Linked DNA regions of Homo sapiens: region 1 is linked to region 2. Evidence: fine-mapped expression QTL. A gene starts in region 2. The other region holds a variant in brackets. All regions are shown on one strand. Distances are between the middles of the regions. Region 1 overlaps KLHL42 (kelch like family member 42). Region 2 holds the start of KLHL42 (kelch like family member 42).

Evidence for each region.
Region 1: its variant is fine-mapped to the expression of KLHL42 in whole blood (INTERVAL, PIP 0.90).

The regions. Positions count from the first base shown.
Region 1 is chr12:27,801,735-27,817,559 of GRCh38, forward strand. It overlaps KLHL42 (kelch like family member 42), which reads left to right. Exons shown (of 3, transcript NM_020782.2): 3 at 1-1,306. It overlaps LOC105369709 (a long non-coding RNA gene), which reads right to left. Exons shown (of 3, transcript XR_931459.3): 3 at 9,581-9,667. It also overlaps the pseudogene RN7SKP15. Among named protein-coding and RNA genes, the nearest start is that of MANSC4, 29 kb to the left of the region's middle. RefSeq lists enhancers at 3,181-3,350, 5,721-5,890. The variant C/T (reference allele first, on the strand shown) is at 5,238.
Region 2 is chr12:27,774,017-27,789,841 of GRCh38, forward strand. It overlaps KLHL42 (kelch like family member 42), which reads left to right and starts at 6,217. Exons shown (of 3, transcript NM_020782.2): 1 at 6,217-7,186. The coding sequence starts at 6,315. It overlaps MANSC4 (MANSC domain containing 4), which reads right to left and starts at 6,220. Exons shown (of 4, transcript NM_001146221.5): 1 at 6,194-6,220. RefSeq lists silencers at 3,186-3,386, 5,819-6,038, 6,059-6,368 and an enhancer at 6,234-6,733.

The sequences.
Region 1 (15,825 bases), 28 kb after region 2:
GCCTTAGACAGAGGAGTGAAAGAATTAAGTGGGTAGACACCAACCAAAATGACTTTGAAAGCAGTGAGCTGATTGAGCTCCAGTTCTGTGGTTACCAGAAATACTGAGTGTCTGTCATGTGCAAGACAATGCTAAGAACAGAATACAGACATAAATAAGTCACGGCCCATGACCTTGAAGAGCTTACGGCCTTATAAAGAGGTTCACTGTAATTGTCTTCACCAGGGCGTCCTTCTCAAAGATGCCCACTTTTGTCTGGCACATTGGGGCTCGGTGGTCTGGTGGTCCCTTCGGTCTTGGCCCTGTCCGTCCTTTGTTTTTGTGATTTACTAACAATCATCACGAACCAGTTTTGTTTTTCTTTTAAATTTGAACATCACATCTTGTGTTTTAGTTTTTTGCTCTATGATTTTTTTCTCACTGCTTTTCAGTCTTCTCTGTACTTCATTTTTGTGAAAAAGTGAAAATCACATATAATCTTTATTTAAAAATGCTCACCAAGCACTGCAGACTTTGGAGTTAGGGATTCAGCAGCTTGTTCCAGTGAAAAGGAGGAGTGAAGCTGGGGAAGTTAGTATCTAAGAGGGGCAAGCTGATTGCATGTGCATTTATACCTATGCCTTTAAAACATTCCCATAAAAAGTATTAATAAAGAAATTTCCATTCCACACTAGTACTGATGAAAAGGTGGTTGATTTTGCCTTGTGATAATTATCAAAGGATAGTTTTTCATCCTTAGATTTTATTCACATGAGAGATTTTTTTTATTTTCTCTGTTGACTTAGGAACACATCATAAATTCACACCAACTGACACGTTGCTGACGTCTGTACTTGACATAACCATTTTTATTCATACAGGAAGCATTAAATATAAAAGATGGTCAGTTTTGAAGAGCAAAGGGTGCTGAAATGACTTGTACGGTTGGCTGGTGCTTTCTCAAATGGATTGCCATAGTTCATTACTAGTAAAGAAAAGGAAAATGTGATTTACGTTGTCATTTTTCCTATTAAAAAAAACCCTTAAGAATGGGGCACTTGAGCTGTCCCTGCAATGTTTTCATATCTAGTAGTCATTTTAGGGAAAGTGATAATCTGTAGAATGAATAGTTATGTTTTGATATGACTGATACTTTCTTTGTTAAAAGGTTGTATTAAGTCTTCAATTTCAAGTCTAGCTTAAAAGTGTAAACATTATGTGATTCATTTGAATACAAGAATGCCTATGAAATACCCACTATAACAGCATTCCTTTTGTGTTTAGAACTATAGAAGAAAATGTCTTCAAATAAAGTAGTTTTCAGTCACTTTTTGTTATCTAAGTTCTATGTATCAGTTACGTATGCAGGGCTGTGCCAGGACTGGGAGGAAATGGGTGAAGTGACTTGGGAGCCTGAGGTGGGAGGATTGCTTGGGGCCAGGAATTTGAGACCAGCCTGGGCAACAGTGAAATCCTGTCTCTACAAAAAATAGAAATAAAAGAAATTAGCCGATACAGTGGTGCATGCCTCTAGTCCCAGCTACTTGGGAGGCTGAGGCAGGAGGATTGCTTGGGCCCAGGAGTTTGGGGCTGCAGTGAGATCTGATTGCACCACTGCACTCCAGCCTGGGCAGACAGTGCAAGACCCCAACTCAAGAAAAATGAAATAAATGGACAACCATTTTCTACACACTCAGGACACACTGATGGAGGAGAAGGAGGATGGCTGACCTAGCAGAGCGACACCCAAATCTAACTGAGCACTTTTTTTTTTCCCAGGAATTATTCTAAGCATTTTTTATTTAAATTATTTAATCCTCACATGAATCCCATGTGGTAAATACAAATATCCTCCGCTTTACAGTTGAGGAAACTGAGGCACTGTAGGTTACAAATTGCCACTTGAGAAAGAGGAGAAGGGAAAACTACATACAGTGGTCACTGGTTTAAAGGGTATCCTTTCTCTTGCTAGTGGAGGAGTGGGTTTCCGAGTGAGCCAGTCTGGGAGCCTCTGGTCCTGCTTTGCAGCAGCGCGTTCCATGGCTGACCTGCCTGGGGGTGAAGTGGCAGCCTCTTCCTGTGGGCATGGTTACAGGAGGTGTGTGGAGGGGCACCTGAACACTTCTGTTGAGGCCAGGGATCCTAGGCTCCTGTTTGTAGGCCATCAACATTTCCTTGGCAATAAAACTTTAAAAACCCATTTGAGGCTGGGCACGGTGGCTCACACCTATAATCCCAGCACTTTGGGAGGCTGAGGTGGAAGGATTGCTTGAGCCCAGGAGTTCAAGGACAGCCTGGGCAATACAATGAGACCCTGTCTCTATTAAAAAAATAAATAAATAAAAACTCAGATGCTGGTAAATCTGATCTCCGGCAACTCCATAGGATAAAGGCCCAGATTTAGAGGAGCCCAGTTTCTTTAACTTAGAGCCCATCTTTATGATGTCTGTCTCTTAGCCACAGGCTTCCTGCCCATGCCTCCACCTTCAGTTTGATGGCGTCAATCTCTCTCTTAGCTTTGGGATAATCTGAAACCATAGGGGTCTGCCGTTCCCAGACTACATCCCAGGGACTGCAGCATTAGTAGAAATGATTACCTCTGTGTGGCAGGAGGTGTTTGGGGAATAAAATACCCACCCTATTTCCTCTTCTTCTTCTTCCTCTTTTTCTCCTTCTCCTCCTTTTCCTCCTCCTCCTTCTCTATTTTTGGAGACAGGGTCTTGCTCTGTCACCCAGGCTGGAGTGCAGTGGCACGATCTCAGCTCACTGCATCCTCGGCCACCTGGGCTCAAGTGATCTTCCCACCTCAGCCTCCTGAGTAGCTGGGACCACAGGCATGTGCCACCACACCCAGCTAATTAAAAATTTTTTTAAAAAAAATTTTTATAGAGATGCGGTCCCGCTATGTTGCTTAGGTTGGTCTCAGAAAACGATTCTCCCACCTCGGCCTCCCAAAGTGCTGCGATTTACAGATGTGAACCACTGCGCCAGGGCCCCCACTCTATTAGTTTGCCTCCTCCGGGAGCCCGATCTTACTATATTTCTGGCTGTTCATGCCCCTTTAACTAAGGCAGAGAACCTGGCTCCTATAGTTCTGCCAGGCACATGTTTGATCCTCTGCAGTCTGCTGCCTGTAGGCAAAAGGGTGAAAGGCATGGACTCTAGAGCAAGACTTTGCTTCCTAATTCTGCTACTGTCTTTCTTTTTTCTTTCTTTTTTTTTCCCGAGACGGAGTCTTGCTCTGTTGCCCAGGCTGGGGTGCAGTGGTGCGATCTCAGTTCACTGCAACCTCCGCCTCCTGGGTTCAAGTGATTCTCCTGCCTCAGCCTTCCAAGTAGCTAGGATTACAGGCGTGTGCCACCACGCCCATCTAATTTTTGTATTTTTAGTAGAGATGGGGTTTCACCATGTTGGCCAGGCTGATCTCGAACTGGCTAGTCTGAAACTCCTGACCTCGTGATCCACCCGCCTTGGCCTCCCAAAGTGCTGGGATTACAGGCGTGAGCCACTGCGCCTGGCAATTCTGCTACTTTCTAGCTGTAGCTTTGGTTAGGCTACTTTGTCTCCCCAGGCCTCAGTTTCTTTATCTGTAAAGTAGGGATAACAATAGTATCCACCCTGTGAAACTGTTGCAAAAAATTGTATGAGAAAATTCATGTGATGTGTTCAGAATGGCATCTGGCACATAACACACAATGAATGTGAGCTGTTGTTATTATTACCAAAGCTGTTTCCTTTATACCTTCAAATGGGCCAGCTTGGCTGGAAGCTTATGCCTTTCCTAAAATATCTTAGCAAAGCCATTAAGACGTAGCTAACAAATTCCAGATCCTGGTACAAGTCTTTCACTTCTCCTAAAGGAGCCAACTTGAGTGGTCTGAGGCCCAAGAGACAGCAGCATAATTAGTTGTTTGCTTTCCACATAAGGTCAGGGATGAGAAGATTCTATCTACCCCATCCCTTCCCTTGCTTTAGCTGGCTCCATATTTCAGCTTTAGATATTTGCAACATCCCATCCTAAGTACCAAACGCTTTATTAAGACTTGTTTGAACCAGCCCAGGTAATGTGTCCATTTCTGAGGTAACCACTGTGGCCAGGGGCATGGAGGAGAATCTCCAGTTCAACCACGTGGAATGAAGTCATCTCAGATAATAGGGGTCTGCTTACTAGAAGAAAGGGGTGTTGACTCTTGACTTGCAAAAGGAACAGCTAGATAACCTGTTGGTCAAGCAAAGCCAAGTTTGTTATGCTTACTGTGGTCAGGGAGGACACCACCTTGAAAAAGAATTAGTAGTGCCTCAGAAGGGGAATGTCAGGTTTTGGGGCCTGGGCTGGGTGATTTTGAAGTAGGTCTCAACACTGGGCAGAGTTTCTGATACAAGAACTTTGGGCATAGGACTTTGTGGGCACAATGCAGTGAGAGTCCCAAAGCTAATCTTGGGAGCTTGTTTGGAGGTTCCAGCAGGGGAGCGCAGCTACTCATACACCCTTGACCCAAGACTGGTCCTCCTCTATTGGGGATGGTTGTCCTCTTCGACTGAGCGTGGAGTTTCGGGAGGGACGCACATGGAGCAGTGAGGGAGGAAGGGGTCACCCATCTAGCCAGCCAGATCAGTCGAATCAACCCTGGCGATCAGTGGGGTGAGAGTTGTCACAGGCAGATCACCCTCACATCCCCTAAGCTAGCCTTGATGGGGAAGCTGTTAGTCTTGGTAAGTGAGCTAGCTGGTTGGTTTACAGTGTTATGGAAGATAAGCCTTCTGAAAATACTTGTTCCTGGATACAGCTTCAGCTATCTCTCTCTCAGGGCACACATATTTGTCTCATAGAACAGTTCTTATGTGCTTGTCTTATTCCTCTTCTAGACTGTAGTTTCCTTGATGATAGAGTGTTTCATTAATCTTTTTATCACTCTATGTCAGGACATACACCAGAGCCATGTAACACAGCAGATTCTGGAAGTATTTGTTAAATTGGAAAGGTTTTGAAGCCTCCTTGGGTTTTCTGAAAATATATAGGTTTCTGGTTTATGTAGCCCTAAAATTTCCTTATAGGAAAAAAGTGTTTTCTTGAGGAACAACGGTTATTAGGAAAACAGTGTACTTTTCTCTTCTACCAACGTACATAATGCGTCACGCAGATGGGAGAAGTTTCGAATTCTGGCTGTGGCTGGAAAGGAAGTTTGCCCACAGACAGTAGTGAGGCAAACGCCTAGGAGTTCAGGGGGCCCCGCAGGCAAATGGGAATGGAGCCCCGT[C/T]GCTTCATTATTTTCTCATCACTAGAATCAATATTAGGGCTTGAGTGATATTATTGTCACTCGTAGAACTGTTTTTTTTTTTTTCTAAAATCTGAATTGAATGGCACAAATACACAGTTATTCAGAATCTGAATGCCAGCGGAAAGAGATGTAGAAAAGGTAGGCGATGTTGTTGTCAGAAAGTGTGGTCTGACCCCCATGTGGGCCTGTGAAGGGTTTCCTGAGGAAGTCTAGGGGCAGAGATTCCGCTGCTCAGGCTACTTTCAGCCCTGGTGGATTTCGAGGTGCTGCTGGGTAGGAAGACAAGAAGTCAGAGGCAAGAGATCTAGAAAGAGGCACTGTAATAACAAGTGGTCTGTGGCTGGTGGTGACTTTTCTTATACAATCTGGTGTGTATGTATATGTTTGTCTGTTGGTTTTGTTTATTTATTTGAGACAGAGTCTTGCTTTGTCTCCCAGGCAGAAGTGCAGTAGCCTGATCTCAACTCACTGCAACCTCTGCCCCCTGCCTCCTTAAAAAAAAAAAAAAGATACGCTGATTTTTTTTTTTAAGGAGGTAGGGGGCACCGTTCAGCTCAAAACAGGTACTAAATCTTATCTCAAAAACCTTTTAAAATGTGCTGTTTGCTTCACATGCCATTCATTGAGAAGGGGCGCACTGCCTGAAATGAAGTTTGCTTTGAGTTGCCTACCTTCCCCACCTCCCCACATCCCCATGATGCGTGTCATTTTAATGCCTAATAATGTCATTTTAATAATTACAAGTCTGAAAGAACAGGATAGGTAAATCCTATACCGTTAGCCATAGTTTGATGAGATCGGGCATGTTCAGGGTGGTATGGCCGTAGACCGTTAGCCTTACCTTGATTTCAACTTTTAATGAAAAAACACGGTACCTTTCTTAGCTGAGTGCATGAGTTAGCAGGTACAGATGTTAAATAATGTCTATGAATTCAGTGCTGTCAGTGTTCAGTGTCCCATGGAGGCTAATTTCTGTCACCTTCCAGTACCTGGAAGGTACCCACCAGTCAGGATTTTTTAAAAAACCAACAGACACTGACTCTAGCTGATGAAAGAAAGAAAGAAAGAAAGAAAGAAAGAAAGAAAGAAAGAAAGAAAGAAAGAAAGAAGGAAAGAAAGAAGGAAAGAAAGAAAGAAAGAAAGAAAGAAAAAAGAAAGAAAGAAGGAAAGGAAGGAAGGAAGGAAAGAAGGAAGGAAGGAAAGAAGGAAGGAAGGAAAGAGGGAAGGAAGGGAAGGAAAGAAAAGTTACTAAAAAGATAGGATTTAACTCAATCTTTAATAGGACATGAAAGAAACAGAAACGATGGCAGCTCTGGCAGTTGGGAACTCAAGGACAATCTCTTCGGGGCTCCACCAATGGGACAGAAACTCCAACCCACTTTAGGTCTCGTGCCATGAGCCCTGAATGGAAATGGAAGGAGTGAGCACCCTGATTGTCCTGCTGGGGTCACATGTCCAGCCCTAGGCTGGGGATGGGATGGGGCCCCTTGGGAAGTCTCACCGAGACCGTACCCATTGAGGGAGGGGGATTCTTCAGAGCAAAGCCAAGTGTTCAGTGGTAGAGTCAAGACAGTGTTGTTCTAATCCCGGGAATCACCTGATTCCTTTGTCTTAGGTTTCTTTTTTCTTCTTTGAGACAGAGAAAGACTCTGTTGCCCATGTAGTGGCACCTTCTTGGCTCACTGAAGCCTCTGCCTCCCAGGTTCAAGCGATTTTCCTGCCTCAGCCTCCTGAGTAGCTGGGACTACAGGTGCATGCCACCACGCCCTGCTAATTTTTGTATCTTTAGTAGAGATGGCGTTTCACCTTGTTGGCCAGGCTGCCTGGCCTCAAGTGATTCCCCCCAACTCGGCCTCCCAAAATGTTGTTATTACAGGCGTGAGCCACCATGCCTGGTTTCTTGGCTTTTTTTTTTCTTTGGCTTTTGTTTCTGAGGACCAGAGTCATCCTAAGCCTTCTGGTCTGGGCAGGTCATGGGAAAAAGGAACTCTCCAGGGGCCTTCTCTGTGACTATTTTAAGAAAATAACACAAACAGACCCAAGGCCAGGGCTCACATTATGGCATATTAGACAGCGTACAAAGGCTGCTGATTTATTCCGTTCTCTTATCTGATAGCCATTAAGGGGAGAAAGAACAGATGGGGAACATTCATTAGCACTGTTTATTATTATCTTCACGGACTATTTCACAGCCCAAACTGTGGCAACTCCATAATCCTTCTGAGGCATTGATTTGGAACACGTTTTATTTTAACCAAGGCAGCCTAATTGTGAGAGAACATTCTACATTTTTTCCCATCTAGTTATTGCCCACAGCAATGCCATCTACATTACCCCGGATTCCAGCCATCTCATGACTTTTGTGGGCCCTCGGCATTTTTGCCTTCATGGGTCCCTTCCTTGGTAAAACAAGATTAAAAATCATATTTTACGACTCTGTATAATGACCAGTATAATCCAGGCTGGACTCATTATTACCCATTCATTATTGTTATACTCATGTTTTTCTTCTTTTTTATATTTTTAGAGACAGGGTCTCGCTCTGTTGCCCAGGCTGGAGTGTAATGACATGATCATGGCTCACTGCAGCCTGGACCTCCTCAACTCAAGCTATCCTCCCGCCTCAGCCTCCCAAATAGCTGGGACTTCAGGCCTGTGCCAACACACCTGGCTAACTTTTGATTTTTTGTAGAGATGGTGGTGCTCTCACTGTGTCGCCCAGGCTGTTCTCAAACTCCTAGACTCAAGCAATCCTCCCACCTTGGCCTCCCAAAATGGTGCTGGGATTACAGGTATGAGCCCCTACACCCAGCTGTTTCTTCTGGTTTTAAAATAAATTACAATGAAAACATTTTTATGGACCTCCAAAAGTATTACAGTGCTTCACCTGTGTGCCTTGAGGATATGGCCCTGCACTCAGTCCATCCTAGACATGCACGCCCTTGTCCTATGCTTAGCATTGTTCTGGAATGATCCAGAATGCTATCCCCAGATATCCCTTTCTGAGAGTTCTGGAGTCAAACGGCCTGGATGAAAATACCAGTTTTATTCTCACTAGCTAGTGACCTGCATTTAACCCTACAGACCTCAGTTTCTTCATTTGTGGTATGCTGGTAATAATGCCAGCTTCCTTATTGGTTTCTTGTGAGGATTACCAGAGAAAATGTCTGTAAACACTTCCCACCGGATCTCACATGCGCTAGATGTTCCATATGTGATAGCTGCATATATTTCTTGTGATCACTACTCCTAGGTCATCAAGGTCATAACCTCACAGAAGGTGCCCCTGAAAGAAATCCAGTTATTTAGTGACTTGCTCCCCTTCCTCATTATCTGGCATGTCTGCAGAAGGGGCTTTGGTGAGGGAGTGCAGGCGGGTCACAAGTAGTCATTGCTATTATTAAAAAAAAAACAAACCAGCAACTCAGCCGGACGTGGTGGCACACACCTGTAATCCCAGCATTTTGGGAGGCCGAGGTAGATGGATCACCTGAGGTTAGGAGTTTGAGACCAGCCCGGCCAACGTGGTGAAACTCTGTCTCTACTAAAAATACAAAAACTAGCCAGGCGTGGTGGTGGGCTCCTATAATCCCAGCTACTCAGAAGGCTGAGGCAGGAGAGTCGCTTGAACCTGGGAGGCAGAGGTTGCAGTGAGCTGAGATCGCACCACTGCACTCCAGCCTGGGCGACAGGAGCAAAACTCCATCTCAAACAAACAAACAAACAACAACAACAAAACAAACTCATACACAGAGAAGTACGGGAGGACTTCCAGATCGCATTTTCTTTGGAAGAGATGCTTGGAAGGAAGAGATCTGAAGCAGTTAAATGGAAGGTTGTGTATTTCCTAGGATTGTTGGTGCCATTGTTGGATTCTGGATTTGGGTGTGGCCACCAAGCTGTCCTGTCACAGTGTAGCCAGCACTGCTGGTGTGAATGCCTGTGATGGAGAGGGAATGCTGTATTCTGGCTCTCTGTGCCTCCGGGCTGGTGGGAAAACGGCCAGACCCTCCACTGCAGCAGATTCATGCAGGGTGATTCGGAGCCACTAAAATGTAAAGAAAGACTGTTTGTTTTCCCAGCTCAGTTTTCAGAGAGGTGAGTAGGTGTTTTCTAGCAGTGCTGATGTTTATTTGTTCTGAAGTCTTTTCTGCTCTGTTGTGGGTCTCAAGCTTCACCGATCTTCAGAGGCAGCTTTGTAAAATGAAGTGGGGTTTTAATGTCTCATACTCCTGGATTTGTTGCATCGCTTCAAAATATTTTCCATCATGGTGCCTGCTCAAAGGTCTCTGTAAAGCATGGTGGTTATTGTCTTTCTGGCACAATTGCCCTTCTATTTCCTTCTGAAGTTTGTAAAGTTATTCGGGCTCTACTGTATAAGGAGCAGGGTCAATCTTACTAGCAGAAGGCTGAAATGAAACGGCAGCTGCTGTGAGTGCTGTGTAGAGTAAAACCTGGCACCACATACCCACTGTCCTGCCTAGATCCAAATGCATTCAGCACCCAGAAAACCCCCAGTGAAGAAAATTTCAATGCTGAAAGAGAAGACTGGAGAACATTACCATAGAATCAGGTTTGTCTGCATGTGCCAGATACCCTAAAATAACAGTATGTTATATAAGATAGAAGTTAATTTTTCTCTGAGGACAAAGCAGCTTGGAGGATAAGCAGTGCAGAGCCAGGACAGCCAGTGGTGGCTGCAGCTGGCTTATTCCAACTTGAGAGAATGGGTTATTTGCACCTCCTCTCAGTCCTATGTTCAATGATGTCACACTGGTAACTTGAAATTGGTGTGGCTGGGTGCAGTGGCTCATGCTTGTAATCCCAGCACTTTGGGAGGCCAAAGCAGGAGGATCGTTTGAGCCCAGGAGTTTGAGACCAGCCTGGGAAATATAGTGAGACTTCATCTCTAAAAAAAAAAAACAAAAAAAACAAAAAAAAAAAAAAAGAAAGAAGGAATAAAAAAAGGAAAAAAGAAATTGGCCATTGTGGAGGATTTTACGTCACTGACATTGGCACATGCTGCAAATCAGGGCTTCGCCCTCCAGAGAGCTGGTTGTTTACCACTTACCAGCCCACCACTGGGTCTAGCTCTCTAATGGGGTTTAGGAACCCCAAGCTCTTTCTATTCTACTGCCCCACCATCCTAATATGTGACTGTCATTCTTACTGTCATTTCACAGTTTAGAGTTGATGCTAGAGTTCCAGCCATTAAATGACACATCCCAGATGGCAAGAAGGAATCGAAATATAAGGAGACAAATATTGAACACCAGCGGTATTTTCAGATCTCTTGGAAGCTGGTATACAGCATTTCTGTGGCAAATACTTAGCTACACGGCTTTGCTTAGCTATAAGGGAGGCTGGGAAATGCCATCTTTATTAGGGGATCCACATGTCAAGCTAAAAGCTAGGGGTCTGTGGTAGACAGAGCTCTACAATATCCCCGGTGATCTTTACTTTGTATAATCTCCTTCTCTTGAGTAGGAGGCAGAACTTGTGAATATGACAAAATGTCACTCCTGTGATTATGTTATATATCAGATCAGTTGATCTTAAGATACGGAGATTATCTAGGTAGGCTTGACCTTCAAAAAAAAGCCCCTTAAATCTAGATCTAGAGTCAGAGATGGAGGAAGTCAGAGATTAGGAGCATGAGAATGATTGGACGTGCCATTGCTGGCTTGAAGGCGGAGGGGCCATGTGGCAAGGAGTGTGGGTACCTCCAGGAGCTGAGAATGACCCCACCGACAGCCAGCAAGGAAACGAGAGTCTCAGTTTAACAACCACAGGGAACCAAATCTTGACAATGACAAAAACGCTAAATGTAAAAGTGGATTTTTCTCTGAAGTCTGCAGACAAGAACTCAGGATGGCCAACATCTTGATTTTAGCCTTGAGATGCTCCAAGCAGAGAACTCAGTCATGCCATGCCAGACTTCTGGCCTACAGAACTGTGCATTAACTAATAGGTATTGTATTAAAGTGCTAAGTTTGTGATAAATTGTTACACTGCGGATGAAAACAGATACAGGATCTATTACTAAGGAAAAAAGGAAAAACGGAAATTAGAGTATACACCTTGCAGTCTTTGACTCATCAATGCAGTAAAACCCTCAAACGTTAAATTGGAAGGAAACAGAGTTTGGTGAGCCTGACCTCCATGCAGGCATCTGTGGCCATGCTCAAGTTCTTGGAACTTTTTTTTTTTTTTGAGACGGAGTCTTGCTCTGTCACCCAGTCTGAAGTGCAGTGGCGCAATCTCGGCTCACTGCAACCTCTGCTCTCGGATTCAAGCAATTCTCCTGCCTCAGCCTCCCGAGTAGCTGGGATTATAGGTGCGTGCCACCACGCCTGGCTAATTTTTGTATTTTTAGTAAAGATGGGGTCTCACCATATTGGCCAGGCTGGTCTCGAACTCCTAACCTCAAGTGATCAACCTGCCTCAGCCTCCCAAAGTGCTGGGATTACAGGCATGAGCCACTGTGCCTGGCCCCTGGGCTACATTCTTATCTAGAGGCCTGACTGAGGAAGAACCTACTTCTAAGGTCAGGCAGGTTGTCGGCAGAATTTATTTCCTTATGGTCATAGGACTGAAAATCCCAGCTTCCTGTTGCCTTAGCTGTGAGAGGCCATCCTCGGCCCCTTGCCACATGGGGCTCCCAACATAGTCAGCTATGGAGAGAGTCTCTAGCATGAATCTTAGCCAGACAGAATCTTATATAATGCAACGTAATCAGAAGTGATGCCCCATCACTTTTGTCATTTCTATTGGCTAGAAGAAAATCACAGGTCCCACTCACATTCAATGGAAATAAATTATACAAGGGTATAAATACCATCATTGGGAGTCACCTAGAGTCTGTCTGCCACACAGACTGTAATTTATGTATATATATAAAATTATTTTTAATTGACACATAATAATTATATTATTACATATTTATGGGATACAGAGTGATATTTCAATGCATGTATACAATGTGTAATGATCAAATCAGGGTAATCAGCATATTCATCCCCTTAAACATTTCTCATTTCTTTGTGTTGGAGACATTCAAAATCCTTTCTTCTAGTTATTTGAAAACATACAACAAGTTATTGTTAACTATAGTCATCCTTCAGTGCATAAAATACCAGAACTTATTCCTCCCATCCAGCTGTCATTTTCTATCCTTTAACCAACCTCTCTTTATTCTCCTTTCCCTCTTACCCTTTCCAGCCTCCGGTAACCACAATTCTACTCTCTATTTTTATGGGATCAACTTTTTTAGCTTCCATATAGGAATGAGAATGGGTGGTATCTTTCTGTGCCTGACTTGTTTCACTTGACACGATGTCCTCCAGGCTCATCCGCATAGAGAAGGAAGACAGGATCTCCTTTTTCATGACTAAATAGGATTCCATTGTGTATATATACTGTGTTTATTTTATCCAGTTGTCTGCTGCTGGACACTCACAAACCTCAATTATTTTTCTCATGTTCATGATTAATCTCAGCCAACTATGAGACTTCATTTCCTGTTTCCCCAATCCCCCTTGTGAGGTGTGGTCATGTGACCTAGGTGTGGCAATGATAACTAAGCAGAAGTATCCTGGGAGGTTTCTAGGAAATCTTTTGGGCTCTCCTGATCAAAGGGAAGAAACACAGTTCGTACCTTTCTTTCTTCTTTTTAAAGCTTTGAATGTGTAAGTCATAACTGAAACTACAATAGCACATGATTATGAGAAGTCAAAAGAATCACAGAGATATCAGTGTTAGGACTGGAGTTCTGCTGAATGAACACTTGTAATCCCTACAGCTGGATTTCCTGGCGTATGAGAATAATTAATTTTTCTGTGCTTAAGCCATTATAACAAGGTTTGTATCATTTGCAGTCAAAAGCATTCCTAATGAATAAAATTGGCTGTCATTTTTCTGTCCCCAGGCTTGGGGAATTATATTTCTGACAAGAGGAGACAATTTTGAGGTGATCTGCTGAGCCTGGGATCTCTATTCTCTGAGTGATCATTTTTTGCATGTGATCCTGCCCTGGCTGTAGCTGATTGAAGCAGGATGCATTCTTTACCAAAGCTGGGCCAATCAGATTCTCTTTTGCATTTAAACTGAGAGACACGAGAACAGGCTCTTGGGGGCTCAGTCACGTTAATTCAGAGCTTTGAAGTAAAAGCTTGTAAACTTGTGTAACTGAGGTCCTGGAGCTAAGTTCCAGCTCTTCCTGGGACCTGGCTGTTCAGTTTTTCACCAGATTGCATCAGAGGCATCTGTATCTTCATAATCAGTTTTTCCCTTGTTTAATCAAGGTAGATTCTGTAATAAGGAGTATCAACTAGGAAACATGACATTTACAGAGCCCTTTATGATCTGACCTTTGTCTTCCTTCAGCAACAAATTCTGTACTCATCTTCAATTACAGCACTATTTTCTCAGCAAAGTCTTCCTTGATCCCAACAGGACAAGAGAGCTGGAGTTCCCTCCCTACACCTGCACATCACCCACTACTGTCTGGCTTAGTAGGCAGAGGTAGACACTGTGTCTTTTTCATTTTTGTCTTTCCAGAACCTAGCACAAAGTCTGGCACCTCGTAGGCACTCAGTAAATGCTTTTTGAATGAATAAAGGCAGAGATGGGAGTTTCTGACTGAAGTAATAGTGTAAACATAACCACAGAGAATGAAAGTACATGGGATTCTATGTTCCTGAAGGGCAGGGACCATGTCTTATTTAGCCTAGCACAATATTTGGCACATGGTAGGTATATTAGGCTGTTGTTGCATTGCTATAAAGAAATACCTGAGGCCACGTAATTTATAAAAAAAAGAGGTTGTTGTTTTTTTCTTCTTTTTGGAGACAGGGCTGTCGCCCAGGTTGGAGTGCAGTGGCACGATCTTGGCTCACTGCAACCTCTGCCCATGCTCAAGTGATCCTCCTACCTCAGCCTCCTGAGTAGCTGGGACCACAGGTGTGAGCCACCAAGCCTGGCTAATTATTTTGTAAATATTTTTTGTAGAGATGAGGTTTTGCCATGTTTCCCAGGCTGGTCTTGAACTCCTGAGCTCAAGCAATCTGCTTCCCTTGGCCTCCCAGATTGCTAGGGTTACAGGTGTGAGCCACCATACCTGGCTAAGAAAGGAGGTTTCATTGGCTCATGTTCCTGCAGGCTATACAGGAAGCATAGCGGCATCTGCTTCTGGGGAGGCCTCTGGGAGTTTCCAGTCATGGTGGAAGGTGAAGTGGGAGCTGGCACATCACATGGCAAAAGCAGGAACATAAAGGTGGGGGAGGTGCCGCACACTTTTAAACAACCAGATCTGGTGAGAACTTACCATTGCAAGGACAGCATCAGAGGAGCGGTGCTAAATTATCTATGAGAAATCCACCTCCATGATCCAGTCACCTCCCACCAGGCCCCACCTCCAATTTTGGGGATTAGATTTCAACATGAGATTTGGGTGGGGCAAATATCCAAACTGTATTAGTAGGTATTTGTTAAAAGTCTTTTGAACTGAACTGCCCTGTGCATTGCTGAGAGAATGCTAAGTGTCTCTCTGGGGCTGGGGCATAAGAGTCGTGTGTGTGTATGTATGTGAGTGTGGAGGAGGAGGTGGTGGGTGGGGAGTGTAGAGGAGATGAGATGAAAAAGGCAAATTAGACCCTACTGTGCGAGGCTTTGCACACTAGATGAGGTTCTTGGCATTTGTTTTATAAACAACAAATAAAGTATTTTATTCATAGATGTAATGGGGCCAGAAGTGGGCAGCTTCTAAATAGTTCAGGAAATAAAAAGTGACTGAAGTAAGGAGGCAGCAGTAGAATTAGAAAGGAGCCCTGGCTCTCACGAACATATTGTTAAATTTTTAAGTATTTTAGGAGCTGGATGTTAAACCTTTGGTAGCTTGAAATTGGCCATAGTGGAAATATTTACACCACAGAAATTGGCAAACACTGCAAATGAAAGCTTTAAAGAAATTCATTTTATGGGAAACCATTTGACCAGTAAACCACTGAGAAAGATTTCAGAGAGAGACAGTTGGACGAAACCGATAGGCCCTGATGATTGGTTGGGGCGGGTCTGGGGTTGAAAAGTTCTTAAAGATGGTTCTGAAATTTTTTATCTGAGATTTTAACTCTGAGTGACTTGCAGGATGAAGATGTCACTCAGTGGAAACTAGGTTTTGGGGAAAAGATGATGTATGTGATTTGCTGCATGAATTTGGGGGTATGACATAATACGCATGTGGCTTGTCCAAAAAAAGAGATTGAAGCCTGTGTTTGATGCTCAGTCAGACCTGGAGTATAGACTTGAAATCAGCTGCCTCCCCTCCCCTCCCCTCTGCTCTCCTCCCCTCCCCTCTCCTCCCCTCCCCTCCTCTCCTCTCCCCTTCCCTGCCCTCCCCTCCTTCTTCTTCCCTCCCTTCCTTTTGTCTCGCTCTGTCACCCAGGCTGGAATGTAGTGGTACAATCATAGCTCACTGCAGCCTAGAACTTCCAGGCTCAAGCGATCTTCCTACCTCATCCTCTTAAGTAGGTGGGACTATAGGTGTGTACTACTATGCTTGGCTAATTTT
Region 2 (15,825 bases):
ACACGGCTGTAATCCCAGCTACTCGGGAGGTTGAGGCAAGAAAATCACTTGAACCTGGGCAGCAGAGGTTGCAGTGAGACGAGATTGCACCACTGCACCCCAGCCTGGGAGACACAGCAAGGCTCTGTCTCAAAAAAACCAAAAAACAAAACAAAAAAAAAACCCCAGAAATAAAGTTGTTTTAGGAATATTGAGGAACTGAAAAAACAAAGAGAAATAATTTTTAAATAGTAGTGAAGTAATAGCATAGCTTTAGTAAATTCAAGACATTTGGAAAGCAGTCAATATTTCACCTTTAATTAATTATTTATTTATTTTTTGAGAGTTTCCATTTCATTTGCTGATAAAATTAATAAAAATTATTTTTTAAAAAATGGTACCTGAAAAACTTAAATGTTTTTTCTTTAAAAATGTTTTTGCTTCTATTAAATCAACATATGTTCACTTTAATAATTCAAATCATATAGAAAAATACAAAAAGAGAAACTATTCAAGCACTTACCATCTTAATAAACATCTTTCTGGATATTGTTATTTAAAAAAACATATGAACGTCAAAATACAAAATTACAACAAATTTAGTTTAAAGACCTTAATTGGCTTTTATTTGTGATTCCAGAATAGGGCAACACCTCATTCTATAAAATCCAATAAACTGAGCAGAGGAGGTGGCTTTGTTGATGGAAAAGAGCTGAGGAAAGCAGAAATAGAAAATAAAAAGCAGGGGCTGGGCACGGTGGCTCACGCCTGTAATCCCAGCACTTTGGGAGGCTGAGGCGGGCAGATCACGAGGTCAGGAGATCGAGACCATGCTGGCTAACATGGTGAAACCCCGTGTCTACTAAAAATACAAAAAAATTAGCTGGGTGTGGTGGCAGGTGCCTGTAGTCCCAGCTACTCGGGAGGCTGAGGCAGGAGAATGGAGTGAACCTGGGAGGCGGAGCTTGCAGTGAGCTGAGATCGCGCCACTGCACTCCAGCCTGGGCGACAGAGCGAGATTCCGTCTCAAAATAAATAAATAAATAAATAAATAAATAAATAAATAAATAAATAAGATTACTTTCCTTGTAAAGGTTAAAGCAGAGGGCACTGCCTTATCATACTGGTTAAAAGCGGCCTGTCTGGGGATTTGGTTATTATCTCTCTCCTGATTTTTTCAAAGATCAGATACAGATCTTGGTTCTGGCTTGGTGGCATCATGGAACATCACCATGAGTAACTCCATTTTGGTTTCATCTGTTGGGGCTAGTGCAGGAGCTCAGTTCAAACCAATGGTCTTGGCTGGTGCGGTGGCTCACACCTATAATCCCAACACTTTCTAAGGTCGAAGAGGGAGAATTGCTTTGAGCCCAGGAGTTTTGATATCAGCCTGGAAAACATAGGGAGAGCCTGTCTCTACAAAATTTTAAAAAATTAGCCGGTTGAGGTGGGGCCCATGAGGTTGAGGCTGCAGTGAACTGTGGTTGTGCCACTGCACTCCAACTTAGGCAACAGAGCAAGACCCTGTCTCAAATAAATACTAAACAAACCAATGGTCTATACATTTTATTTATTTTTAAATTTTTTTGTAGAGACAAGGTCTCACTATGTTGCCCAGGCTGGCCTCAAACTCCTGGCTTGTGCAATCCTCCCGCCCTGGCCTCCCAAAGTGCTGGGATTACAGGAATCGGTCACTGCACTGGCCTCCTATAAATTTTATTTTACAGTATATAGGTTTACATAAAGGGAATCATATATGCTGTTCCAAAATCTGTTTTTTTTTTTTAAACTTTATGTAAAAGTATATTTTTCAGCCAGGCGTGGTGGCTCACGCCTGTAATCCCAGCACTTTGGGAGGCTGAGGTGGGCGGATTACCTGAAGTTGGGAGTTGAAGACCAGCCTGGCCAACATGGTGAAAACCCGTTTCTACTAAAAATACAAAAATTAGCCAGGCGTGGTGGCAGACACCTGTAATCCCAGCTACTTGGGAGGCTGAGACAGGAGAATGGCTTGAACCCAGGAGGCTGAGGTTGTAGTGAGCTGAGATCACACCACTGCACTCCAGCCTGGGCAACAAGAGCGAGACTGTCTCAAAAAAAAAAAAAAAAAAAAGTATATTTTTCAGTGATCCTAAAGAAAGATCTACACAAAAACTTCTAATGGCTCCTTGGTATTTCATTCTACCATACCAAAATTTACTCTGCACTTCAGCTTCCTCAGCTGTAAAATATAAAAACAGTACTGTAATCCATGTAAAGCACTTACAACAGTGCCTGGCACATGCTAAACACTCAATACATATTAGCTACTATTATTATACATTATGTTGTTTTCCAATTTTTTGTTATTAAAAGCAATACTGTGATAAACATCTTGTACTAAGATTTTTTTTTCTACTTGCTATTTCAAAAGGGATATTTTCCATAAGTTCTTTAAAAAATGACCTACTTCAGCTGGGTGTGGTGGCTCATACCTGTAATCCCAGCACTCTGGGAGGCTGAGGAGGGAGCATCACTTGCGCCCAGGAGTTCAAGACCAGCCTGGGCAACATGGTGAAACCCCGTCCCCACAGAAAATGTAAGAATTAACCGGGCATAGTGGCGCAGGCCTGTATTCTCAGCTACTTGGGAGGCTGAGGTGGGAGGAGCACTTGAACCTGGGAGGCCTCTGGGAGGAGCACTTGAACCTGGGAGGCTTCATTGAGCCATAATAGTGCCACCACACTCCAGCCTGAATGGCAGAGTGAGACCCTGTCTAAAAAAATAAAAAATAAAAAATAAAAATTACCTAACTCTATTTGACCATTACGCTTCTGTAAAACTGTTTTACAGATAGTACCACAAAACTGGTTTTTATTATTCAATGATCAGTCAATAACAGATCTATAAAATTATACCTCCAGTTATATAAAGCAATATTTTCAGGAAGACTAGGAATAATTTTAGGTCTTTTTAAAATAAAGGAGTTTATATTGCTCTGACTTTGCATTTCTAGCTTAACAGAAAACTTACTGCATAATTTATTAAAATGATTTGATCATTTAAGATGCTCCCAATCCTAAATAATGTTATTATCATATTGGGAGCCAAAAAAACTCACAAGATCAATGCCCAGTATTGTGAGACTAATACCCCAGACTCCCTGTCCAACCTCATCTTACCCTGATAATGTTACTGTGCTTGAATTGCCTTTCTAATGCACATCATTCTTTGAGCATGATTTTTTTGGTCTGTTTTAAAAAGGCAAGAAAATACCAGTCTGAGGCATATCTATGACGGCTGGGAAACAAAAGCATCCATTGGTGAAAGATTCAAGAGACAGAGGAGAGACTGAGAGCCTGTTCTTTGTGGCTGACCCACTGAATCTGGCATTGTTGCCGGTTGAGGCATAGAAAAATCGTAGGTCCAAGTCTCTTTGATACAGGGGACGCATCCCAGCAAAATTCCCCAGCCTGATGCTTAATACTGGATGTTACACTCTACCATCCCAAAGAAGCTGCTAAATGCTTGATCACTCACTCCACCTCCTGCTCCAAAGCTTATCGTGTCTCACTGCACCCTCATAGAGAATGGAAGTGTGAAGGGTTGATGTGAAAATGGAGTTTTATCAGTAACGATTTAAAGGCCAGGTGAAACAAGGTGAAGAGATGAATGTTTTTTATAGAATCCAAGAAAACAACTGAGTAAGTCATAGATCCATTTTTATTTCCTTCATTTTTTTCCAGGGAGGCCAGAATCTACTAGAACATTTTCTATGTCTTTTATTTTTTAGTTCCTTATTCCTAGCATTATTATAAAGAAAATAGGCCAGGCACAGTAGTGCTTTGAGAGACCAAGGCAGCAGGATCACTTGGGGTGGCAGGATCCCTTGGGGCCAGGAGTTTGAGGTCTGTCTTGGGCAAGGTAGCAAGACCCTATCTCTATGGAAAAAAAAAATGCATTTTTTTTTGCTGGGCATGGAGGCTCATGCCTGTAATCCCAGCACTTTGGGAGGCCGAGGTGGGTGGATCACGTGAGGTCGGGAGTTCCAGACCAGCCTGACCAACATGGTGAAACCCCGTCTCTACTAAAAATACAAAATTAGCCGGGTGTGGTGGCTCATGCCTGGAATCCCAGCTACTCCGGAGGCTGAGGCAGGAGAATCACTTGAACCCGGGAGGTGGAGGTTGCAGAAAGCTGAGATCGCAGCATTGCACTCCAGCCTGGGCAACAAGAGGGAAACTCTGTCTCAAAAAAAAAAAAAAATGCATTTTTTTTTCTAAAAAATAAAAAGATAAACCTCCTTTCCCAAGTAATAATAATAAACAAAGTAAAAGATGACAACAACACCTCTCTGTGAAGCAGATAAATTTCGTAGTAAGAACCACAAATGTAACCAAACTATGTTGAAAGGATCTCATGTTTCACCTTTGACTTTCTTTTAGTTCTCTGGTTTTTAACCCTTTCTCCTTCCTAAGGTAAAATGTTAGCATGGTAGGATGTATCTTCTTTAAATAGGGGAAATGTACTTATGAAGAAGATATTATTTAACAATCTGTCATTCAAGAAGAAAGCTGAAGCTTGTAATAATAAAAAAAAAAACCAAACACATATTCTCTCCAAGTTAAGGACTGTTTATCATAGGTGGTTCTCAAATCTTGGTTTGGGGTAAGTTTTCAAGGTTTTCTGTTTTTGTTTTGTAAGATAAGAGTGAACACACCCTCTGCTTCCTCCCAATCCTTCTCCCTTCTCCTACCCAAAGATAATCCAAACAATATATTTCTCCCCCCACCCCCTTCCTGGGATGAATTCATTAGCAAGACAAAAAGTCCTTCCTATTATTATTTGGGGTGGGCCTTCTAATTGCAATGTTCAGTGAGAGAACATAGGAAACAAGTGGTCTCTCTTTTCCGAGACGGCGTCTCGCTCTGTCGCCCAGGCTGGAGTGCAGTGGCGCGATCTCGGCTCACTGCAACCTCCGCCTCCCGGGTTCCAGCAATTCTCCTGCCTCAGCCTCCCGAGTAGCTGGGATCACAGGCGCGTGCCACCACGCCCGGCTAATTTTTGTATTTTTAGTAGAGACGGGGTTTCACCATGTTGGCCATGGTGCTCTCGAACTCCTGACCTCGTGATCTGCCCACCTGGGCTTCCCAAAGTCATGGGATTACAGGCGTGAGCCACCGCGCTCAGCCAAACCGCACGTGTGGTCTCTCTTAATAGTCCTCAGATGATGGGGGCAGGGTAGGTGGAGAAAGGGGGTGACAAGAAAAGCTACTTCTTGCAGACATTTATGAGCCAATTTTGTCAGATCTTTTGCGCCAGGATAACATTCCGTAATGGACTGGACTGAAGTAGAAAAGCAATGGCTCATAGAAAACATGGTTTAAAACCAGAAGCCACGTGATGTAACTTTATTTAGTCGGGCTGCGCTTTCATCTTTCTTTTAATAACTTAGGGAGAATAAGGGGCCCCAGTGGCAAATGCAAGCTCCCCTGCCTCCCAACCCGATTCCTCTGAGAACCTGCTGCCATCTGCCTGGACCTCCTGTAAGATGGCTCCTACGCGACCACGCTACCAGAGAATCAGCTCTACGTGCCACCAACATTGCCACCAACTGTCCATAGATCGCCTGCGTGCCTCAGCCCACTGACACTCGATGCCGGACTGGGCCAGAAGGACGACCCCATATTTGATGCCTTTTTGTCTCCCTGGACCAGAGACTCCATCCTTCCCTTTCCTCCCACGCTCATTTCTTTTTCTTTAGCCCGTGTAAAGCAGCGTGGGAGAGAAAACGAATTTCTTCTCCCTGGGGTACCCCGGAGCATCACTGCAGCCCCCAACAAGCGGCGGAGCCGGCGCGCCCCGGGCGGGCGGAGAGGCTGCGGGGACGCGCGCCCTCCGCCTCCCGCAGCTGCGCGTCCGCAGCCGAGGCGCCCGGGCCCGCAGCTTCCCGGGCCTCCCCGAGAGCCGGATCCAGCCGGCAGGTCAGGCCGGCGGCTGGGGTCCCGCGGGCGGAAGTGAGAAGGGCGGCGGGGGAGGAGGCTGCTGGCTGGGAGCTGGAATTCCCTTCCCGCCTGGCGCCGCCCGGGAGAGCCCGCGCGAGGACGCCCGCCGCGCTCCGCCGGCCCTTTTTTGGCGCTGAGGGAAAGGAGAAGGGCAGGGCCGCCGCCTCGCGGGAGCGGGCCCCGGGAGGAGGGGCCGCCGGAGAGGCCGGGCGAGCGCGGGCGGCCCTCACCTCGCCGCTCCTCCCGGGCCGCCATCCCTCGGCGCCCCGCCCGGAACCGGCGCGCGCGTAGGGGCTGGGAGGCCGGCGCGCAGATCTGGCGGTGAGCGCTGCCGCCCCGGGGCCCCCAGCCATGTCGGCCGAGGAGATGGTGCAGATCCGCCTGGAGGACCGCTGCTACCCGGTGAGCAAGAGGAAGCTCATCGAGCAGAGCGACTACTTCCGCGCCCTCTACCGCTCCGGCATGCGCGAGGCCCTGAGCCAGGAGGCCGGCGGCCCGGAGGTGCAGCAGCTGCGCGGCCTCAGCGCGCCGGGCCTGCGGCTGGTGCTGGACTTCATCAACGCCGGCGGGGCCCGCGAAGGCTGGCTCCTGGGCCCGCGCGGGGAAAAGGGCGGCGGGGTGGACGAGGACGAGGAGATGGATGAGGTGAGCCTGCTGTCCGAGCTGGTGGAGGCGGCCTCCTTCCTGCAGGTCACGTCCCTGCTGCAGCTGCTGCTGTCCCAGGTGCGGCTCAATAACTGCCTGGAGATGTACCGCCTGGCGCAGGTGTACGGGCTGCCCGACCTGCAGGAGGCCTGCCTGCGCTTCATGGTCGTCCACTTCCACGAGGTGCTGTGCAAGCCCCAGTTCCACCTCCTGGGGTCTCCTCCCCAAGCTCCAGGGGATGTCAGCCTGAAGCAGAGGCTGAGGGAGGCCCGGATGACTGGGACTCCTGTCCTCGTGGCCCTCGGGGACTTCCTGGGGGGACCCCTGGCCCCTCACCCCTACCAGGGGGAGCCCCCGTCCATGCTCAGGTACGAGGAGATGACTGAGCGTTGGTTCCCGCTGGCCAACAACCTTCCTCCCGACCTGGTCAATGTCAGGGGCTATGGGTCTGCCATCCTGGACAACTACCTCTTCATAGTGGGCGGGTACAGGATCACTAGCCAGGAGATCTCCGCTGCGCATTCCTACAACCCCAGCACCAACGAGTGGCTCCAGGTGGCCTCCATGAACCAGAAGAGGTAAGCACCCCGGCAGAGTGCTGCTGCCTTCTCATTCATTCACTTGTTCATTAGTTCATTACCCCAGTGTTTACTGAGCCAGTAAATAGGGGAGGGTGTGCTGTGGTGGAAATGACATCTTCAGGAATGTTGTTGGCCTTGGCGCTGGCAAAATTCCCAATGAACTAAGAAATTGCGAAGAGGACGTCCCCAGTGAGGTCAAGAAGTGGAGTGGTTTTTTGGCAGGTATTGTGCCTTTAGGTGAAACTGCTTTCTTTGCCTCTGTTCTTGTGAAAAAAGATGTTGTGGTTTCCTACAAGAATACTTTAAAAGAAAATTGCCCCTTAATTTTTAAAAAATTTGTCTTAGTTTTTAGGATTTGATCCTGATGATAATGATACACTGGACAGTAACCTGTAACACTGACTTTGGGGGATTTTTTTCTGATGTCAGTGACTGTGACAACAGAGTCTTCCACACTGTGATACCCATCATGATCAAGAGATAATCACTGGAAATGTATTAACGTTTGCAATAGGGGTTGCTTTTCTTATTTTTTATCCTCTCTTTTGCTTCCTTCCCTGGACAGCCATCGTCATGACCCACAGCTTGAGCCTGGAAGTGTTCAACTACAGAATTGGAATATTTTCATTTACGCAACCTTCTCCCCCTCCCATCCTGCAAATCTCTCCTGCCTCCAACAAGGGTGACTTGAAGAAAGGAAGAGGAGGAGCTTGAGGAGTGGGATGAGAGGGGAGAAGGGAAAGGAACCAGGGAAGGAATATCAAAACAAGAGCAAAGAGCATATACAGGAAGAGATGGTAGGAAATAAAGATGGTAGCGCCTAGGAGGCCTCAGCGTCATTCAGAAGCAGGGAAAAGAATCAATGTAACTCAAGAAAGGATGAAAATACCCTTTCTTCCCATCCACGTGTTTCCATCTCAATCCTCACAGGGTCCTGGTCCTGAAGTGTGGAGCAAGGAGTTGGGGAGCTCACAGCTGGGCAAAGAAAGTCTTAACAGTAACAGAGAATCCTTTATATATCTGTTTATTTGACTCGAGGGTCCTCCTCGGCCAGGGATTATTTGGGGGAAATAACTGGCTTTATTTCTCCTATAATATGAAATTCATTTTGAAAAGTATGCTTTTTCCCCTGATAATACATAGTTACAGAAAACTGGAAAATGGAAAAGAATGAAGAAGCAAAAAGATGATTATTCCTACCCGCTCTTCCTAGAGGCAGTAACCAGGTTGGCATATTTCCTGCCAGCCCATTTTTAATGCATTATTTACACCATTGAGATGATACCATATTTAAAATTTGGTATCAGAAGTGTTATTTTAAAACAAATTCTATGCACTGTAATTGAAACAACAAAGGAACATTGTGTGGCCATGGGTGGTGGTCTGATTAGGGGTGGGCGGCCCTGAGTTCTCTCACTCCTCTTGCATTCCTCTAGCTACACATCATTTGGTGCTCACCAGGCCATCCTTAGTGCCACAGTTCCTCACACTTCTTTCTTCCCTTCATACATCCTTGGTAGTCTTTGTCTTTTTTTCTAGGAAGGCCCTTTTCATCCCCTTAAAAAAAAAAAAAGCATTCAAGTAATGCATGAATGCATGATTCTTAGAAAAACTGCAAATTACACACAAAACTGTGGAGTAAAAAGAGTAAATGTCTGCCCTCAGGGTACAGAAAAAAAGTGTCAGTGTATCAACAGACTTTTGTTACCTTTAGATATTATAAATGTATAAACATTTATACTGTAAATTATATGTATACTTGTATAAATACAGTTAACCCTTAAACAATGTGGGGGCCAGGGACACCAAACCCTGCACAGTCAAAAATCCCCATATAACTTTTGACTCTCCCAAAAACTTAACTACTGAATAGCCTACTGTTTACCAGATGCCTTACCAATAACATAATCAATTAATACATTTTGTATATGTAGTATATACTTTATTCTAACAATAAAGTATGCTATAGAAAAGAAAATGTTATTAATAAACTAAGGAAGAGAAAATTAAGCGGAAGTGGATCATCCTTATCATCTTGACGCTGAGTAGGCTGAGGAGGAAAAGGAGGTAGAGGAAGGGTTGGTTTTGCAGTCTCGGGGTGGCAGAGGCAGAAGAAAATCTGAATGTAAGTGGACCCTCACAGTTCAAACCCGTGTTATTAAAGGATCAGCTGTATAAGTATATTGATAGTGGTTAACAATAGGGGAAAAGTGTTTATGTATATTAATGTGCACGGGGGTGTATCACCTTACACATTTTAAAAATTCTGAAATTGTCTAGGTTGTACTAATTATTATGGCACTTGATATTTCCATTTAACCATATCTGAGAGTTTTTTTTCTGTGTCAACAAATGTAGATCTACCTTATGCTTTTTTATTTTTTTATTTTTTTTGAGACGGAGTCTCGCTCTGTCGCCCAGGCTGGAGTGCAGTGGCGGGATCTCGGCTCACTGCAAGCTCCGCCTCCCGGGTTCACGCCATTCTCCTGCCTCAGCCTCCCGAGGAGCTGGGACTACAGGCGCCCGCTACCACACCCGGCTAATTTTTTTTTGTATTTTTAGTAGAGACGGGGTTTCACTGTGTTAGACAGGATGGTCTCGATCTCCTGACCTCGTGATCCGCCCGCCTCAGCCTCCCAAAGTGCTGGGATTACAGGCGTGAGCCACCGCGCCCGGCCTTACCTCACGCTTTTTAATGGCTGCGTGGCATTCCAGCCTATGGATGTACCATAATGTAATTAGCCCTTCCCTTATTTATGGACATTTAGGTCACTTCCATTTGCATTGGATGTTTCAATAAGCACTGCCATTGAACATCCTGGTAGATGCGTGCATGTATCTTAGTAGCCATATGTGAGTTAGTTTCATATGTCAAATTCGTGGAATCCCTGGATAGGTAGGGCAAAGTGTATGTGTTTTTTTTTTTTGTTTTTGTTTTTTTTTTTTGGGGACGGAGTCTCGTTCTGTTGCCCAGGCTGGAGTACAGTGACGCGATCTCGGCTCACTGCAAGCTCCGCCTCCCAGGTTACGCCATTCTCCTGCCTCAGTTTCCCGAGTAGCTGGGACTACAGGTGCCCGCCACCACGCCTGGCTAATTTTTTTTTTTTTTGTATTTTTAGTAGAGAAGGGGTTTCACCTTGTTAGCCAGCATGGTCTCGATCTCCTGACCTCGTGATCCGCCCACCTAGGCTTCCCAAAGTGCTGGGATTAAGTTGTGAGCCACCGCGCCCAGCTGTGTATGCATGTTTTAAATTTTGTTGAAGCTGGGTGCAATGGTTCACGCTTGTAGTCCCAGCTACTTGGGAGGCTTAGGCAGGAGGATCACTTGAGCCCAGGAACTGAAGGCTGCAGTGCACTCTCATCGGGCCCGTGAATAGCCATTGCACTCCAGCCTGAGCAACATAGTGAGACCTCATCTCTATAAACAGTTAAAAATAAATAAATAAATAGATTTTGGTTGCTCCCGCCAAATTGCCCATCAAAAAAATTGTTCTGATTTCCTCTTCCATCAAAAGTGTTTGTGCTTGCCAGTTCCCTATACTCTTGCCAAGATAGAATATTATCATCTTTTTTTCCCCAAACCTAATGGGCAAAAACACTAGTGTGATTTTTCCCAATTAGAAGAGAGATTATTCTTTTTATATGTTGGTTGGCCATTTGTATTTCTTTTGTAAATGGTCTTTGCCAGTTTCCTAAAAATTGGCTTATTTTCTTCACATTCATTTGAGAAGTTCTATGTGTGAATACAGATATTAATCTCTTGTCTGTTATGTAATGTCGTGCATGTTTTCCCATGCTGTTATTTTTTCTGCAGTGTTCAAAAATAAGATCCCAAAGTGACTGGGTAGGTGAAATTGTTGCATAGAGGGGTGGGTGGGAGTTATGATGAAGCTGAGAGCTATCGCCCCACCAAAAGAGGGCTCCACCTCTCAACCATGGCTGGTTACTTCTACGGGGAAGGGAGGAAATGTTGCCAGACATCCAAATATCCCTTTATTTTTTCTTTTTTAAAGAAATGGGGTCTTGCTTTGTCACCCAGGCTGGAGTACAGTGGTGTGATCATAACTTACTGCAGCCTTCAACTCTTGGGCTCAAGCAATCCTCCTGCTTCAGCCTCCCCAGTAGCTGGGACTACAGGCATGCAACACCATGCTTGGTTAATTTTTTAAAATTAAAATTTTTTCTTTTGTAGAAATGGGGGCTATGTTACCCAGGCTGGTCTTGAACTCCTGGCCTCAGGTAATCCTCCCACTGTGGCCTCCCAAAGTGCTAAGATTACATGCCACCATGCCTGACCCTCCATTATATCTTCTAATTGATTATTGATGCTGTATTGGAAATTGTACCCTTCTTTAGTTCCCTCTGCTTTGACTCAGGTATGACATATCTCCTAGGAGTTCCTTCCCGAACTCTGGCTTGGGCTGAGTGTTCCGTGTCTGCTCCTCTAGCATCTCATGCACATTCCCCGACTTGAATTGAAATTCTCTGTTGTTGTCTCTCTGCCTTCCGATCAGGAACTAGGACTTACTCAATGCTTATGTATAGCCCTACTCCTAACAAGATGTCCAATAATAATAGGTGCTTAAAATACGTGTTTTCTTTAAAAAAAACTATGGAATATATTTTTACATTATTGTAATAAAAGTTAATGTATAATTTTATATTTCGCTTTATTTGTAACACTATAGTGAACATTTTTACCTTGGTAACAGTCATTATATTTATTTAGAGTAGCTGAGAAATAATGAGAGACATCATTTAATTGAACACTTAACTCTGCAGTAGGTACTGTTCCCGCTGCTTTGCATGAATTATCTAACTTATTCTTCACAAGGGCTGTTAGGCAGGTTCCCATTCTAAAGAGACAGAAAGTGAGGCACAGAGAAGTAAATTGCTCAAGGATGTGTAATAAGTACAGCAACCAAAATGTAAATATCCATTGAGTAGTTATAACCACTTAAATTGTTTATAAGTTTTGGATTTTAGACTTGCAGGGACCATCTTCATGCACATTTCCCCCCTTCTTTAAAAAAAATTATTTCCTTCTAAAAAATAGAGCACAGATCTTTTGTGGTACAGTGCTACTTTTCAAAATTTCATCATGTGTGCCTCAGCTCCACGACAGCCTTTAAGCCCAGCATTCTTCTAGTCACTGTTGGATGTACAGAAACTGATGACGTAATTGCTGCCCTCAAGAAGTTTAAAATTGAGTTTAGGTGATGAGACAAGTAAAAATGAAACCTAGCACAGAGTTTTTCCTGGATGAGGCATCCAATACAGGTTATGCATGCACTGGAAGAAATTTGGAACCTTGAGAAAGAAAACCAGATTTTGGCCTCTGGCTATGCAGAATTTCACATCTACTTTGATTCACCTTTGTCGGAGACTGCTTTGGGATGTATCAGTATTTTACTTTGATAAAGGGGTCAAATGTAGAGCAGTTCACTTTTCCCAGGGACTGAATAGTGCAGTGATCCAGAATCTTAAATAGCAGGAACTCTGGGATTGAAAGAGTTTTTTTTTTTTTTTTTTTTTGAGACAGAGTCTCGCTCTGTCGCCCAGGCTGGAGTGCAGTGGCCCAATCTTGGCTCACTGCAAGCTCCGCGTCCCGTGTTAACGCTATTCTCCTGCCTCAGCCTCCCGAGTAGCTAGGACTACAGGTGCCCGCCACCATGCCTGGCTAATTTTTTTTTGTATTTTTAGTAGAGATGGGGTTTCACTGTGTTAGCCAGGATGGTCTCGATCTCCTGACCTCGTGATCTGCCTGCCTTGGCCTCCCAAAGTGCTGGGATTATAGACATGAGCCACCGCGCCCGGCCAATTGAGAGATTTTATAAAGCCTTCTGCACTCTGGAGAAGATAGTGGGTGCTATATGACCATCAGAGGGTAAAAAAGAAATGTTTTGCTCTGTAGGCCAAGTGTGCAACACTGCCTGATGGTCTGAACGTGGGTTTGATCTCACAAATTGTCAGGATGTAACTCTTCACACATAAAAGCTTGTGAGACCTCTAGGCACGGCGGCTCACACCTGTAATCCCAGCACTTTGGGAGGCTGAGGCAGGCGGATCACCTGAGGTCAGAGGTTCGAGACCAGCCTGGCCAACGTGGTGAAACCCTGTCTCTACTAATAATACAAAAATTAGCTGGGCATGGTGGTGGGCACCTGTAGTCCTAGCTACTTGAGAGGCCGAGGCAGGAAAATCGCTTGAAACCGGGATGGGGAGGTTGCGGTGAGCCAAGATCAGACCACTGCACTCCAGCCTGGGCAACAGAGTGAGACTTTGTCTCAAAAAAAAAAAAAAAAAAAGCTTGTGAGATCGAGGGTGCTTGCTTTCCCTTTAATCAGTGATAACTTGCAGGAACTGACCACTGTTGCAGCAGTTGGTTCATTAAGGTTCTCCATTTCCAGAGCTTTCTCTAGTCTTTTCCATTGCCCTGCACTTTAGCTCTGAAAATGGAGTTGGAGTGAGTCCTCCTGTTCCATGTGTGAATACAGCAAGGCTGAGAGAGAGACTTTAATAAACAAGTGTCTCCTGGCAGAGATGGAATTGCAGTTGTCAGCCTTAGCGTTTGCTGAGCTGTCCCTTCTCCTCTCAGCCAATGTTTACCATTTTTGGAGCATTTCTGTGGTTGATGTTGTAGTAGAGCCTGGGAATAGTGCAAGAAAGAAAACTGTACGTCTATTCACACTCCCCCCCAACTCCCCATTTAATTTTGGCCAACAGTTTAAATTGCTTTTTGCATCTTTGCTTTTGGAGTTTCTTAGAGCTGGGCATAGGTTGCAACAATGACTACCTCTATTTTCTAACCTTTCCCCTTCTCCCCTTCCTAGTCCCTAGGGGAAGTTAATGCGTAGGGACATGGCAGAAGGCAAGTAGATGAAGGGGAAAGAGGAGACAAAAGGACCTGGATGGCCCACAGACTTAAGCAGTCGTGTTCTGAGTGGTTGAGAAAGGACTTTTGAAAGGATCTTGGCATTTTGTTCTAATTTTTACTCTGATGGTAAGCAAACTTCTTTCTCTACATAGGGGGTCATAATGATGGTTTTCATTTCTTGAGCTCTTACTCTGGGTCAGGTATTGTAGTCACAACTTGAGGTGTCACTTCATATTAATGCTCACAACATCTCTGTGAGGTAGATGTTATTAATCCCATTTCCTTAAAGTGGAAACTGAGGCTCAGTGAGTTTAATTACCTTCCACATAATCACAGGGCTAGACTCGAAGCCACCCAGACCTCTGTGTCATCTTGCCTTCCTATGGTTGTATGTAGCTACTGTTAATCCTTGAGATCTGCGTGCTGGTGTTAAGCATGTTTCATGTTACTTAGCTTTTAGGGGTTTAAAGAGCTTTTTAAGCCACGCACGGTGGCCTAGCTACTTGGGAGGCTGAGTCAGGAGGATTGCTTGAGGCTGGGAGTTCAAGGCTGCAGTGAGCCATGATCAGGCCACTGCATTCCAGCCTGGGCAATGAAACGAGACCCTGTCTCTTAAAAAGCTCTCCTTTTAAAAAAAATTTTTCTTATAAGTGACCTTGAAATTCAATTGTGGTTTTATCCAATTTTCTCACTTAAAACAGAAATTCTAATGATAATATTTTTATTTATTGCAAGGAACAAGTATATAGCTATGATAGATGACTTGTTACTTGGTCTTGAAATTCTTCTTTTTACCTCGTGAACATAGTGTGTTAAATTAAGAAAACACTGTAGAGATGATAATTTTGAAAAGTAGTTGATAGCTTGAATTTATACCTTTACCATTCAGGAGGTGAAGAGTGGAAGAATTATTTTCAGAAAGTTGGAAATGAAGCAGTAAGTGATGAGAATTTGTGGATGAGAGAGCACAAAACATCACAGTCAGTGACTGTTGCAGTTGACAAATGAGAAACCAACGCTCCCAAGGTTAAGAAAAACTTAGACTTAGGACACCCAGAGAAGCACTCCCTAGAATGCCAATGGAGAAAGACTTATCTCTGCAAGTGCTGTCCTTTTCAGCTCTTACTGCATGCCAGATATTGTGCCCTTCTTATCCCTACTTAACAGATGAGAAAACTGAGGAACAGATCAACAGATTCAGTAATTTGTCTAAGGTCAGACAGCAATTGATGTGTGATGTCTGAGACTTCCCTGTGTAAGCCTGGACTCATAACCTTTAGCAGTATGCCTCTTTATTAAATGGTCTGTTTTTAGGTGGCAATTTCATCTTAAAACAAATTCAGCATTAAAAAGTGTTTCTCTTCAAGTGAATTTGAGCGTGTTGGGGTCTGGAGAGATGGAATCATTTACTTTAACTGCCTATTCATTGGTCTCAAAAAGAAGCCCCTTACATGTTTGCTTAGGACAAATGATTATGCTGGATAAATACTAAAAACTGTTTTGATCTTACAAAATTTACTATCTGTGTACCTTTGGGGAGCAAAAACAAATTGCGGCTGGGAAAATTTAGTGCTTGTTTACAAGCTTTATTTCCTTTGGTTCCCCAAATTTGCACACACAGAGAGGGCATCATGGTTGGATTTTAAGGACCATTGGCAGCAAGAAAGGTAAGCAGCAGGAATCAGGGACCCCCCAGTACCTGCCACCCTGACGTCTGTTGGCACAAAAAAGTGGGCTGGCTGGCTGGCTGGCTGGCTTT